2 separate regions of the Homo sapiens genome follow, and region 1 is reported to be linked to region 2. The links are microRNA targets in miRTarBase. Many come from high-throughput screens and were not tested one by one. Region 2 holds a microRNA gene; the other region holds the end of a gene's coding sequence.
What was found. Region 2 holds the annotated microRNA hsa-miR-3659 (UGAGUGUUGUCUACGAGGGCA, at 2,934-2,954, shown strand). A microRNA usually pairs through its seed, bases 2 to 8, with sites in the 3' UTR of a target mRNA and lowers its output. Matches are read on the target gene's strand: a 7mer-m8 pairs with bases 2 to 8, a 7mer-A1 pairs with bases 2 to 7 and ends in A, and an 8mer does both.

Region 1: the mRNA of PRSS12 is a reported target of hsa-miR-3659. Seed matches in the 3' UTR shown: 7mer-A1 at 844-850 and 7mer-A1 at 1,707-1,713.

The regions. Positions count from the first base shown.
Region 1 is chr4:118,279,376-118,282,375 of GRCh38, reverse strand. PRSS12 (serine protease 12) reads left to right here. Exons shown (of 13, transcript NM_003619.4): 13 at 133-2,338. The coding sequence ends at 440. It overlaps SNHG8 (small nucleolar RNA host gene 8), which reads right to left. Exons shown (of 3, transcript NR_034011.1): 2 at 2,945-2,987; 3 at 2,553-2,752. Among named protein-coding and RNA genes, the nearest start is that of SNORA24, 1.7 kb to the right of the region's middle.
Region 2 is chr1:38,086,356-38,090,903 of GRCh38, forward strand. It overlaps MIR3659 (microRNA 3659), which reads left to right and starts at 2,876; the gene lies at 2,876-2,974. The region is part of intron 1 of MIR3659HG (MIR3659 host gene); the gene reads left to right.

The sequences.
Region 1 (3,000 bases), not on the chromosome of region 2:
GTCATTGCTCATTTTAAACTACACTAATGCCACAACAGGGATTTTATTTTCATAACTATTACATGCTCAGTAACTGTTAAATGTTGCGATGGTTATCTGGAATGCCACTAATCAGATGTTTGGTCTGAGTAGGACGAGCCTATTCAAGAACACTACAACAAGCAGCCATTCCCTTACTTCCTAAAAGGTTTTGTGAAGAACGTTATAAGGGTCGGTTTACAGGGAGAATGCTTTGTGCTGGAAACCTCCATGAACACAAACGCGTGGACAGCTGCCAGGGAGACAGCGGAGGACCACTCATGTGTGAACGGCCCGGAGAGAGCTGGGTGGTGTATGGGGTGACCTCCTGGGGGTATGGCTGTGGAGTCAAGGATTCTCCTGGTGTTTATACCAAAGTCTCAGCCTTTGTACCTTGGATAAAAAGTGTCACCAAACTGTAATTCTTCATGGAAACTTCAAAGCAGCATTTAAACAAATGGAAAACTTTGAACCCCCACTATTAGCACTCAGCAGAGATGACAACAAATGGCAAGATCTGTTTTTGCTTTGTGTTGTGGTAAAAAATTGTGTACCCCCTGCTGCTTTTGAGAAATTTGTGAACATTTTCAGAGGCCTCAGTGTAGTGGAAGTGATAATCCTTAAATGAACATTTTCTACCCTAATTTCACTGGAGTGACTTATTCTAAGCCTCATCTATCCCCTACCTATTTCTCAAAATCATTCTATGCTGATTTTACAAAAGATCATTTTTACATTTGAACTGAGAACCCCTTTTAATTGAATCAGTGGTGTCTGAAATCATATTAAATACCCACATTTGACATAAATGCGGTACCCTTTACTACACTCATGAGTGGCATATTTATGCTTAGGTCTTTTCAAAAGACTTGACAAGAAATCTTCATATTCTCTGTAGCCTTTGTCAAGTGAGGAAATCAGTGGTTAAAGAATTCCACTATAAACTTTTAGGCCTGAATAGGAGTAGTAAAGCCTCAAGGACATCTGCCTGTCACAATATATTCTCAAAGTGATCTGATATTTGGAAACAAGTATCCTTGTTGAGTACCAAGTGCTACAGAAACCATAAGATAAAAATACTTTCTACCTACAGCGTATAAACTAGCAAAATTTGAAAGGATTTCTGGTAACTAAATGCCAGCTGGACATACAACCTATTTTATCCAACACATTAACATATCTACTATATTTGCTTTTAACAAGCACCTCATCATAGTCCACGTTCCCCGACCATGATGTAAGAGTGCCACCCACTGACACTTCCCTGTAACTGACTTATACCTGCAGGTTTTCCCAAGCCCAACCTGATACAATCCAATCTTAAAATATACTAGTCAAAATGCTTTCCTGGCCTACACATTGAAAAGTTCTAATACATACAGCAGTTATAACATATGCCAGGCACTGCATTAGGCAGCTTTGCACATCACTGACAATTTGCAAAAGGCCAGTAAATCTTATGGTAGTAGCCCTTGTTTTCAAATGGGGGAAAACAGGCTTGCCTCAAAGTGAGACCAGTTGGTGAAACTGATTCCAAACTCCAGAAAAAATGCTGATTTTTTTCCCCATGGTTCTCCTACCTAAATGATTGGTTTCCCTATGGCTATTTCTCCAAGAGTTAAGGGATAGCTGCTTAACTATGCACCTTTACAGAACATTCTTAGCAGTAATGCTCAAATTTAAAAGGCACACTCAAGATACTTCCATGTCATGGATCCTTCCCCAGGTCCCAGTAGTATAAATATAGGGAAGAGGTTAGCATGAACTTACAAATTGTTTTAAGTAATCCTCTTGAATGCCAGTCATTAAAGGACTTTGCCCTTCTACATCAAATTACATCCTTTTCACAAATCCCCATTTCTGTAATAACTGGTGCAAACCTAAAGGTGCTTTATAGTTTTACTACTTTGCAGATTTGCAATGCTGCATATAATGCAGAAGAGCATTAAAAACTTTTGTAAAAACTCATGATTTTGATAAACTTTTAAAGTAGCGTTTATATGTAAATAGAACTACACATGGCACACACACTTGCACAAGGGCTTCAGAAAAACGTGCAATATAGGTGAGAAAAATGTCTATTGAAACTTTCTCACAGGCTGCCCTTATAATTAAACTAGTGTTGGGGCAAGCAACATCTGTTTCAAGTAGATCAGGGACTAGCAAACCTAAAAGGCAGCAAGCAGCCTGCAGTTTGCTCAATCCTTAAGAATACATGGTTCATACAACATGCTTTTACTATGTCTTAAGTGTGACTTTTGAAAGATACAAGTGTTCTGTGCATATTTGTGTAAATAAATACATAATTTTCCACCTTGTATAACTGCCTTAAATTTTTGTATGGTTTAAAAAGAGTCTGCTGTCTCCCTTGGGGGTAGCCTGGTAATTTTTATATTTTACATTTTTCACAAAGGCTGCAATTACCTTAGAACTGTACTCACACTACTTCCACATGAGCGTGTAACACTAAATAGGAGGTATTATGCTATTAACTACCTTTCCGTCTATTAATCACTCAGTCAAGGAACAATGAGTAGCCACATGAATTAAGCATTTTATTTAATTATCACGGACCACCTTAAATATTACTTTACAAAATTCAGGCCTATATTTAAAATAGGTGTCCTGATAACTTCCAGGATATTATTCGGAACACCCGTTTCCCCAACTACGATAAGTCCATTGCCGGATGCTGAATAAACTTCGCCCATTACCACTTGGATTTCTTGATAGTCTGCAAGAGAAAAAAAGCATTATAAAACTCCGAGCTGTGTACTTACCTCACTGTTTTGAGATCTTATCAGCTAATTCAGTTGGTTGTTAACTCAAACTACAAAAGCCAGCAAAACGGGCCAACTTTAGCTTTCCAACGTCCTGCCGCTAAGGCGTTTCAGATTAACTCAGAAATATCAAAAAAGAAATGTACCTTATGTTTCCATCATCCATCGTAATGTGTTCAGCTCAGCTTCCTAGAAACATTGA
Region 2 (4,548 bases):
TCCCCATCCTCTTGGAGCTTTTAATTTCGTGGAGGAGAAAGACACAAGCCAGATAATCGCGCACGCACACACACACACACAACTGTAAATAACAACAGACTATGTAGTGTCCTTCAGGTTTTAGGCACTGGCTTGGTGCTTTACATATTTTAACTAATTTCGTCCTCACAACAACCCTATAATAGGGAGATACTATTATTATTCCCATTTTACAGACCAGGCAGTTGAGGCACAGAGAAGTTAGGTGACTTGCTCAAGGTTACACAGCTAGTAAGTGGCAGAGCCAGGATCTGAAATTAGGAAATATGCATTCTTTTTTTTTTTTTTTTTTTTTTTTGAGATGGAGTCTTGCTCTGTTGCCCAAGCTGGAGTGCAGTGGTGCGATGTCGGCTCACTGCAACCTTCGCCTTCTAGGTTCAAGCAATTCTGCCTCAGCCTCCCGAGTAGCTGGGATTACAGGCGTGCACTACCACACCCAGCCAATTTTTTGTGTGTTTTTGGTAGACCACGTTGGCCAGACTGGTCTCAAACTCCTGACCTCAAATGATTCGCCCACTTTGGCCTCCCAAAGTGCTGGGATTACAGGTATGAGCCACCACCCCCCGGCCACGGAAACATGCATTCTTAATGATGCACATTTGCAAACCACCGTGAGGTCCATCTCAGGAGGAGCTTGGATGGGGAGTGGGGAAGCCACTGGGGAGGGCAATGGGATTCAAGCTTCGAGAAGATCACTCTGGCTGCTGGGTGGAGGGCAGATGGGGGTCCAGACTGCAGGCTGTCAAAAGAGACCTGGTGAGAGATGACAGCGATGCGGCCTGGATTAGGGCAGGGGCAGTGGGCACCAGGAGAAGAGGGCAAGTTTGGGAGAGACGTAGGGCCTAGAATGGTGGCACCTGGTAGGTGAGTGGGTGTGGGAGGGTGCCTTAAGGTGGGGTTGAGGACTCTACCCTGTGTTTGGGAAGTGAGCCAACCAGCTGTGTCTCAGGTGCTCTCTCCACCTGCCCGGCAAGCCCACCTCGACTCTCCTGCTTCCTGGGGGAAGAGGTGGCCTGGGAGGCATGTGGGAGGCTTTCCATGACTGCTGAGCCCTAGCTTCCTGGAGCATCCCTCAGGGTTCGGGGAGAGTAGGTCACTGGTAAGTGGAGGAAGCCCCGAACCTGGCCTCAGACACAGATTTAAATCCTGACTCCTCTGATGAGCTGTGAGACGTTAGGGGAGTCACATATATCTCTGGACCTTAATTTCTTACGAAATTTGGGAAATGATGCCTGCCTCACTGGGCCTGCATACGACAATTAATATGGAAGTGGACTATGAAGGTGAGGGTGGAGGAGCTGTTTTGTTGTTGCTGTTCAATTGTATCATTTGAGGCTTCTTTCCACGTGGCAGGAGAGGTGGGCTGGTGGGAGGCTCGGGAGGCCTGGACGCCAGCCTCTAAGAGGTCACGGGATGGTGGACATGATCCCATGATGGGCCTCAGTCTCCGGATCTGGGATGTGAGCCCCCGATGGGAGGCAGAACAGCCAGGGTGGTCCTGCCAGGCAGGTGGAGAGAGTGCTGCTGCAAGAGTTAGGCGCTGAGACAGAGCTGGCCAGAAACAGCATCCCTCGTTCATTCCAAGTTCATTCACTCCTTTAACAGACATGCCACTGAACACCTGCACAGTGTCAGGCCCCATCCTAGGGGCTGCGATATGATGAGGAAACAAGGTCATTCAGGTTCTGGCTTTCTAAAGCTCATCGTACAGTGGGGGCAACAGATAGTAAAAAAATCAACAAGGAGGGTTGAAACAGCAAAATGTTCTATGAAGACAAAAAAACCAAAACCCAAACCCTGGTGATGTAAAAGAGGGTGAGGGGGAGAAGGGCTCCTTCAGATAGGGCGGTCAGGGGCAGTCAGGGGAGGTCTCCCGAGGTGGTGACAGGTGAGCTGAGGCTAGGCTGATGAGAAGTTTAGGGGAAGAGCGGGCAAGCTCAGGTGACTAGTGAGGAAGGAGGAGTGTGACAGGAGAGGCATGGAGAGATGGGAGAGAAGCCAGGTCAGGTGAGGCAGGAGAGAACGCGGTCATGCCAGGCTTTGCAGGCCCTTCTAAGGAGTGTGAACTTTGTTCTGAGAGCAATAGGAAGCCTTTGAAAGGTTTGAAGCAGGGCGTGACATAGTCTGATCCACTGTCTGGATGACTCCAGCTGCTGTGCAGCGAATGGATTGAATGGTGGGAGGGACTGTGATGCTTAGCGACCTCTGGCTGTGACGCCTGCCCCAGCCCTGCTGTGAGGATGCTCCACTCTGTCTGCTTAGGACTTACTTGCCTTCCACACTCTCCCCAGCCCTCTTCTGGGCCAGCAGCTCCAGGCTGTGCCAGAGTTCCCAGAAAGCACCAAGAATCTTGAGGCAGAGGACTGACTGGCTGGCCTGGGGAAGGCTTGGCAACCCAAGTGCAGGTACAGTGGGCATGGGTGTGGCTGCCCTGCCTGCCTCCACCCTCCATGCAGGACAGGTACCCCACGCCCACCCCCACCCCTCATGGGGCTTTTGAATTAAAAAGTCTTAACTTTTTCTTTTAAATGGCAGCTCTGTGTACTGTACATGGTAATTAATACATTAGCATTTATGCAAAATACCATCACAGCCGGGCTGGTATGTCAGCTGCCTTCCTGAGCTGCAAAAATGTGAGCGCCCCGAGGTACCTCAGACAGGCCCCCGCCCCTAGCAGACAGCTCTGTTTGACCTGCATCATTCACTAACCTGTCTCGGGGAGCCTGTCTACATGCACACATCTGTGTATGTTGGCCAATGTAAATGCTGCTTCTTGTGAGTGTCTGTGGTATGCATATGTGTCCTTGTGTGTGGATGCACACGTGCTGCTTGTGTCTCTACAAGCAGATACAAGGATGCCCTTGTACACAACACACGTGCTGCTTGTATAGACATGAGTGTTGTCTACGAGGGCATCCTTGTGTCTGTGTGTGTGCCTGTGTTGGTCTGGGCATGAGTGCATATGAGTCTATGGTTTTATATGTGTACATCTCAGAATGTGTGTGTATGTACATTTTGTTTTTTTTTCTTCCAGGTTGAAGCGATTCTCTTGCCTCAGTCTCCCCAGTAGCTGGGATTACAAGCACCTGCCAACACGCCTGGCTAATTTTTTAATTTTTAGTAGAGATGGGGTTTCACCATGTTGGCCAGTCTGGTCTCGAACTCCTGACCTCAAATGATCCGCCCACCTTGGCCTCCCAAATTGTTGGGATTACAGGCGTGAGTCACTGTACCTGGCTGTGTATGTACATTTCTGTGTGCCTGTTGTGCTTGTCTGCCGGTCTATGTATTTGTGACTGGGTGTGTCTGTGTGTTTCTGTGCATCCATGTGGGCTGTGCATGCATGTGCATATGTGCATGGATATGGATGTTCATGTTCATATGTGTATATCAGTGGCTGCCCACGCTTGAATGCCTCTGTGTGGGTCACTAGGTATGTCTGTGGGATCTGCTATTTGTGTCTGTGCATCTGTGTGTCAGTATGACTATGTGTGTGTCTCTGTATGTGCATTCCTATGCATGTCTCAATTTGTGTGTGTGTGTGCGCATGTGCGTGTGAAATGCTTGCTAGACTGACTGTGAAATGAAGTTGCAGCACAGTGGAAAGAACAACTCACTGGAGACAGTGACATGCGTATTCTCTGGACCCTGGGCACCCTGCCGCTGATGGGCTCACAGGGCAGTGGGAGAGATGAGCCCTTCAGTGGGCAGTGAGGACCCGGGTTACTGGTTGATGGCAGAGGCCAGCGCAGGGTGCTCCTCGGAAGCTCAGTTGGCCCTGAGTAGGAGTAGGGGTGAGGTGGGGTTGGGGAGAGTTTCTGAGGCGGCGGCTGTTGAGTGGGATCCTGGAGGGTGACTAGGAGTTAGCCAGATGAGAAGTAGAGTCTGAGGAGCACGGATGTGGCACTGTGACAGCACCTGGCCTGTTCAGAGAGGCTGGAGACCAGGAAGGAGCTCATTGTCAGGAGTCGGGGTAGCTGGACTAGACCACCCAGGGCGCATATCCTGAGGGAAGCGGGACTCACTGGAGGCCTTCAAGAAGGACAGGGTCATGGTCAGGGTAGAAATATCACTCTGCTTTCACAGTGAGGAAGGACTCAGAGGGATATGCCAGGAGACAGAGATTGGAGCCACGGCAGCAGGGGGAAAGGAAAGGGGATGGAATCAGAGGGTATTCCCGAGGTAAAACGATTAGTATCCAGAGATTGATTAGACAACAAAGTGAGGGGAGGGAGAGGGAGGAGCAGGAGTTGGGGGACATCCAGTTTGTGGCTGCAGAGATTGGATGGTTGATGAGGATGTTCACGGAGACAGTGAACACAGAAGGGTGAAGGGAAGAGTTTTCTTTGGAGGGAAGGTGATGAGTTTTAGACATCTTGAGTTTCAGATACCTATGAAATGTAATTTGTTCATTCATTCTTCATTCACTCATACATATACCATGTATCAGGCATTTGAGAAACCAAGATGAACGAGACAGAGAGACAGTGGAGTTTAGAAAGAATTACA